Linked DNA regions of Homo sapiens. The protein of the gene in region 1 purifies or fractionates together with the protein of each later gene. This does not show direct contact. Each region holds a gene or a part of one and is shown on either strand. Other genes may lie near its edges.

Evidence for each region.
Region 2: the proteins of FNBP1 (region 1) and FCHO1 fractionate together in Homo sapiens (co-fractionation; one large-scale study listed by BioGRID). This does not show direct contact.

Annotation. Positions count from the first base shown.
Region 1 is NC_000009.12:129,886,554-129,889,958, forward strand, and holds the end of FNBP1 (formin-binding protein 1), read right to left. Parts: 3' UTR 634-3,405; downstream 1-633. UniProt on the Homo sapiens protein: May act as a link between RND2 signaling and regulation of the actin cytoskeleton. Required to coordinate membrane tubulation with reorganization of the actin cytoskeleton during the late stage of clathrin-mediated endocytosis.
Region 2 is NC_000019.10:17,785,625-17,789,070, forward strand, and holds the end of FCHO1 (F-BAR domain only protein 1), read left to right. Parts: intron 1-949; coding exon 950-1,005; intron 1,006-2,057; coding exon 2,058-2,222; intron 2,223-2,645; coding exon of another isoform or gene 2,646-2,659; coding exon 2,660-2,682; coding exon of another isoform or gene 2,683-2,786; 3' UTR 2,787-2,937; downstream 2,938-3,446. UniProt on the Homo sapiens protein: Functions in an early step of clathrin-mediated endocytosis. Has both a membrane binding/bending activity and the ability to recruit proteins essential to the formation of functional clathrin-coated pits.

The DNA of each region.
Region 1 (3,405 bases):
CTAAAACAGTGCTAAAAAAAAAAAAAAAAAAACCCTTGGGACACAGAGAAGTGTGGGCACAAACCAATCCTATCTTCCCCCAAAAGGCCAGGGTGAAATTTTCAAAGCTGGCTGTGGAAACGGGGCCTCCCACTGCACATGTCCAGCCAGTGCCAGGCACAAGGCTGCTGCCCTTTCGAGTTGTCCACGTGAAACAGCTCCGCACTGCCTGCAGCTTCACAGAAACTAGTGATTCCAGCCACGCCACCAGGAGTACCGGCTTGAGCACTGGTGATACCAGATAAATAATGAAACTCAGGTGTGCCCTCATTTCACCACCTCCTCCTGCCCCAGCCCCAAGCAATGAGGTCCCCAAAGAGCTAGAGCAGCAACCAGTTGAATGTGCATGCAAAAAATACTCCTGGCCATAAGCAGCCTCTCGCAATCCTCGCACTACATCAGCCCGAATTCCACGTCACCACGGTCTGAGAGCCTCCCCCTCCACCGTGGATGGGGGTGGAACTGAGAGCTATCTAGGTCTCCAGCTCCTCCCAGGGGCCAGCTCCCCAGCCCAGGGGGCTTCCAATGACACCAGGCTGCTTCCACAACTAGGGTCATATCTTCATGCAACAAAACAGTCCCGTGACACGGAGCCACAAGTTATATTTTATTTTAACACGAGATTAACATATAGTTACAAGGTCAATACAAGCCTCCAGTGGAAGCTCTTTATTTGGTTTAATTCCATCTCCAGAGACAAACAGGCAACTCTAGGACCTTTACAGTGGCGATCGGCCTCACACAGCAAAATGCCTCCAAAGTTTAGAATTAGTGCAACACACATACGAACATTTTAAAGGTGCTCAACATCAGGTTAAAATAGAATTCTGGACCTTTTTAAAAAGTTTTTGGATGATATAAGCACAGGAGGCAGAGCCAATAAGAAACATGAAACCAATATTTCTGGAAAAACACTTAGCATGAACGTCACTTTTTGACGTCGTGTAAACTTTCTTCTGCAATGACGGATGTTACCAAAAGGCATCGAGACCTTTGCGCTGCGCTGGTTAGACAAGCCGCAGGCTTATCTCCACGGTGAGCAGGATAAAAACCCCCAAGGAACAGCCCATGACAACCTTCTGTGCCTTTTTATACTTTCCCATCCTACAAAGGAAAAACTGGGTAAAGGACAAGTTCCTCCCTTTCACTGCGTTTCTAAGAACTTTTCAGGGCAGGTTCTTTTAAAATTAGTCATCTTACAACACAACAGTATTCTAGCACGGTGGCGAAGTGACAGGCGGCAGATACGGGGGAGGAAGGAGACGTTCACGGGAAATTCCACATTCTACTCTATGTGAACTGCTCCAGAAAAATACAGACATGATTTCACAGTAGGATTCCCAGAGTAAATGATGATACATAGGACAACTGACCTCCTCTAAGAAGCCCGGCTGGGGCAGCAGTGAGCTTTTCATGGAGCCACGCAGACTGGCCCGGAAGCAACACCCAGGTTCAACATTTAAGAGCACTCGCTATAACATTCTTTTTGGACGCAGGTGGTGGAAAAGTTTAAAAAACAGGCGGAGGAGTGACGGGGGGATACAAGCATATCCTATACTGGGGGTGACGGTCATTCAAAGAGCAAATTACTGCAGCTTATATCTTTTCCACTATGTTGCAAGAAATGAATCTATCCTGACCCATAATATGAAAGATGTGACGCACATGCATTCCCGAGGCTCTAAAATCCCATTTTAAAGAACCGTTTCACATCCTCGTGGAGTGGAGAGTGGTCCACTTGACTTGGTGAGGTCAGAAGTTCCTGAAGATCCCTGTCGTCCCCGTTGGCGGGGGAGCCCATTGTGGAGCTGTGGGGACTGCCACACTCACCATGCACCTGTTGGTTTGCAGGGACAGAGGTGCGGCCCTGACTCTTCTCACCCTGTGTCATCCGGGCTTGTCTTTCGTCTGTCAAGTCAGTCCTCCTGCGTGACTGATGGGTGCACCACGCTTAGGTCACCCGTTGCAGGGACCGGAAGTCCATGGCTCTGCCGCAACCCTGAGCGGTTTGCAGTCCCCCCCGGGGAAGAAGCAGTCAGAGAGGCTCACGCTCACCTACTTTAAAAACCCAAAGCCACTTCCTCTTCACCTGCCTGGGCCTCAGCGTCTCTGCGCTTGTGGTTTCTCGTCCCCGAGGGCTGACTGAGCTGCTCCGGAAGGGTGGTGTGTGGTCAACCTTGGTTGGCTGAGAGGAGCAATTTCCTGGTTTCCACAAGTAAAGACAGCCCCATCCCTTGGGACCTGTCCTTTCCGTCCCTGTCCCTTTGGCTTCTATAGGACTTCCTTGTCTTAGATTCATAAACAGCAAGAGGAACTGAGGATGCTTGAGGGGACCACCTAGTTACCAAAGCCAAGCAAAGAATAAAGCTGCCCGACGTCATCCCCAGGCTTCCGTGGCGCTCTCGGTCACAGGAGCTCTAGGCCAATGGTTCCTCTTGACTGTTTCTGCACCAAATGAGAGGAGGGGCTGCTCTGCTCTAAGGCGTGGCGGGGGGGGGGGGTGGTGGCCACAGATTAGGGGACCTCAGGTTTTCCTCAAAAACCCACACAGGGAAAGAAACTTGGCTCTAAAAGCAAACTCAACGAATTCCACATGCCCTGAAGAGCACGTGATAAAATACAAGGGTGGTGGCGGCGGGATCCCTCAAAGGACCACGAGAGGCACGGGGTCTTTGGTGATGAAAGTGCTAACCTCGGCGGGGTGCGGTAGCTCACACCTGTAATCTCAGCACTTTGGGAGGCTGAGGCGGGCGGATCACCTGAGGTCAGGAGTTTGAGACCAGCCTGACCAACACGGTGAAACCCTGTCTCTACTAAAAATACAAACATTAGCCGGGCGTGGTGGTGCACGCCTGTAATCACAGCTATTTGGGAGGCTGAGGCAGGAGAATCGCTGGAACCCAGGAGGTGGAGGTTGTAGTGAGCCGAGATCATGCCACTGCACTCCAGTCTGAACAATAGAGCGAGACTCCCGTCTCAAAAAAAAAAAAAAAACAACAACAAAAAAGGAAGTGCTACCCTTTTCAGATGCTAATCCTGGGGCTCCTGGAAAGGAGAGGATGTTCGCTTTGCAATGAGCTGGTGCAGAGGGGAGGGCCTCGCTCACAAGCGCATGATCTACAGTTCTCAGGGACAGGAAAGTGATGGGGAGGACAGGCGTGGGCTCCTCATGGCCGGTGGACACAGGCGAGTCAACAAGGCGAGCTGGAATTCGACTTCCAGTGTGGACCTCCCCAGGCCACTGAAAACAGGGCGTCAAACCAAAATGTGTGTATGCGCACGCGTGTGTACTGGTGGGTGTGCCTGTGGGTGTGTGTGTACCTGCCCCCCTGCCTGCCAGATGCTCCCAGGTTGAGGGCATAGTGA
Region 2 (3,446 bases), on another chromosome or scaffold:
AGATCGAGACCATCCTGGTTAATATGGTGAAACCCCGTCTCTACTAAAAATACAAAAAAAAAATCCGGGCATGGTGGCGGGTGCCTGTAGTCCCAGCTACTTGGGAGGCTGAGGTGGGAGAATGGCGTGAACCCGGGAGGTGGAGGTTGCAGTGAGCTGAGATCATGCCACTGCACTCCAGCCTGGGCAACAGAGTGAGACTCCGTCTCAAAAAAAAAAAAAAATAGTAGTGGTAGTGTGCTCTTGTAGTCCCAGCTACTCGGGAGGCTGAGACAGAAGGATCACTTGAGCCCAGGAGTTGAGGCTTCAAGGAGTTACCCTGGGTGACAACTGTCTCTTAAAAAACAAAAATTTAAAAAAAAAAAAGTCTGTTGTGAAGAAGCCAGACTTATAGGACAGAATGCGTCATCTAAAAGTGCTGCAAGGAAGCCGGGCATGGTGGCTTATGCCTGTAATCCCAACACTTTGGAAGGCCAAGGCAGGTGGATCACCTGAGGTCAGCAGTTTGAGACCAGCCTGGCCAATATGGTGAAACCCCGTCTCTACTAAATTACAAAAATTAGCCAGGCGTGGTGGCGGGCGCCTGTAATCCCAGCTACTCAGGAGGCTGAGGGAGGAGAATCGCTTGAACCCAGGAGGCATAGGCTGCAGTGAGCAGAGATCGCACCAATGCACACCAGCCGGGGCGACAGAGGGAGACACCATCTCAAAAAAACACACAAAAAAACACAAAACAAACACACACACACACACACACACAGAAGTGTTGCAAGGCTGTGTGGCTCCACGGCTGTTCCATATCTCACCCTCATTTCACAGATGAGGAAATTGAGGTGAAGTGGGGGAGAAGGTTTGTTGGGGTCACACAGCCAGGAGGCAGCTGAGGCAGGACCCTGGGCTCTCAGCATCCTCTCTGGGGAAGCCCTGATTAAGATTCTTTCTCTGCCAGGAACCTGGAGGAGAAGCGGCTCACTTGGAGGCTTCCAGATGTGTCCGAGGCAGGCGGTGAGCTGTGGTTGTGTATGAGGGCTGGGTGGGAGGGACTGGGGTCAGGTGGGAGGCACTTATTTATGTTGGGGAAGAATTGGGGACATACTGAGGGCGGGCAAGTATGGGCATTGAGGAAGTCTTTAAAAGCTGGAGGAGGGCCGGGCTGAGTGGCATAGGTCTGTAATCCCAGTGCTTTGGGAGGCCCAGAATGCAGGATCACTTGAGTCCAGCAGTTGGAGGCTGCAGTGACCCGTGATCGTACCACTGCACTCTAGCCTGGGCAATAGAGCCAGACTCTGACTCAAAAACAAACAAACAAACAAAAAAGGCCAGGTGTGGTGGCTCACGCCTGTAATCCCAGCACTTTGGGAGGCCGAGGTGGGTAGATCACTTGAGGTCAGGAGTTCAAGACCAACCTGGCCAGCATGGTGAAACCCTGTCTCTACTAAAAATATAAAAATTAGCCGCGTGTGGTGGCACGCACCTGTGATCCCAGCTACTTGGGAGGCTGAGGCAGGAGAATCGCTTGAACCCAGTAGGTGAAGGTTGTAGTGAGCCGAGATCGTGCCACTGCACTCCAGCCAGGGTGACAGAGCGAGACTCTGTCTCAAAAAAAAAAAAAAAAAAAAAAAAAAAAAAGCTGGAGGAGGGCCAAGGACAGTGGCATAGGTCTGTAATCCCAGTGCTTTGGGAGGCCCAGGTGGGAGGATCACTTGAGCCCAGGAGTTAGAGGCTGCAGTGACCTATGATTGCACCACTATACTCCAGCCTGGGCAACAGAGCCAGACCCTGTCTCTAAAAAAAAAAAAAAAAAGCTGAAGGAGAGGGCGTCCCAGGGCCAGATGGCCAGACACAGCAGGTGCAAAGGCCCTGAGGCAGGACTCCCTTGCTAGCCATACAAAGCCCAGTGATGCCAGGAGAGACAGATGCAGGGGATCAAAGGGAGGTCTGATGGGGCACATAAAGGCCACAGAACAGAGGGCTTCAGGTGTGGGCCAAAGATGAGCCTGGTTCACAGCTGGGACGGGGGCTGGTGCCAGGGCGCAGCTGACTGCAGGTCTCCCCAGGTTCTGGCCGCCTCTCTGCCAGCTGGGAGCCGCTCTCAGGGCCCAGCACACCCAGCCCCGTGGCTGCACAGTTCACCAGCGAGGGGACCACTCTGTCGGGCGTGGACTTGGAACTGGTGGGCAGCGGTTACCGCATGTCGCTGGTGAAGAGGAGGTTTGCCACAGGTACTCCCCAACCCTGCTGCTGGGTGACCTCAGGAGCCGAGATCTTACAGGGGCAAGCCCCGGGGTGTGGGGAGGGATTGGGGTGTGGGGATCCTTGGGAAAGATAGGTGGGTGTTGGGGCCAGGAGACCCCAGATGGGGGGCACAGGTGGGCAAGGAGGCAGGGCCCTGTGTATCTGGGGCTGGCCCTTGGAGGACGTCCTTGGAAGGACCCCAGCCAGGGAGCCCGAAGTCCCCCCTGCCACCCCCTCCTCCAGCCCCACCCTGTTCTCCTGCCCCCAACAAGGGGCTCCTGGGGCCCAGTGGCAACAGGGACTATGAGTTACAGGGGTGTTTTGAAGAGGACAAGGATGATTGAAGCATCCCAGGGTCAGAGCCGGGGAACCCCTCCCGTACCCCTCCTCCCCACCCCTCCCCCTCACAGCTGCACCCCCACAGGGATGTACCTGGTGAGCTGCTGAACCCGCAAATGCTGCTGCCCCAGCTCTACACTGCGCCCTGGTGCTGGCTGACCACCCCCTGCCCTCCTGCCGGACCCTGGGGCCTCCCACCCCAGCCTCCCTGAGGCCCATACTCCACGGAGAGGAGCCCCATGCCCAGCCTGGCTGAGCCCGAGATTCGCTCCTCCCCCTCATGCCAACCCCACACAGGTCCCGGCCTTTTAATGTTCTTTGAATAAACACTTTATTTTCTAATAAAATAAAAAAGGAAACCTTTTCCTGCTCCAGGAAGTATCCTTTGCGTTGCCAGAGAGGGGAGGAAGAGAAGGTGGATGGATACGAGAGACCTAATGTACCTCCCTCCCTGCACTGCGCTCAACCGGTACAGGGCCATTCTGGGAGAGAAAGAACAACACAGATACCCCAGCCCCATGGGCTCAGAGGTGGGCTATAGGGAGGGAGGAGGACTACAGAAGCCCAGAAAGGGGTGTCAGGAGTCTTCCCAAGCAGTCAGGAAGACTTTCTAAGGAGGGGGCATTATAAATGAGGTTTTGAGGTATGAGTAGGAGTTTGCAAGATAGGAATGGGCATCCCAAGCAAAGTGATGGAAGGTTGTTAGTTCAATGAGGAAGCAATTAGTCAACCTACAAATATTAATTGAGTATCTACTGTATACCATGTAGCAGAGAGAGAGCTATGAGCAGGACAAAGTTCTTGGAACCCAGGAAGTGGAGATAGGAAGCCTGAGTGAGGAGCCTGCTTGGCGGCCACTGGCTGTGTGACTT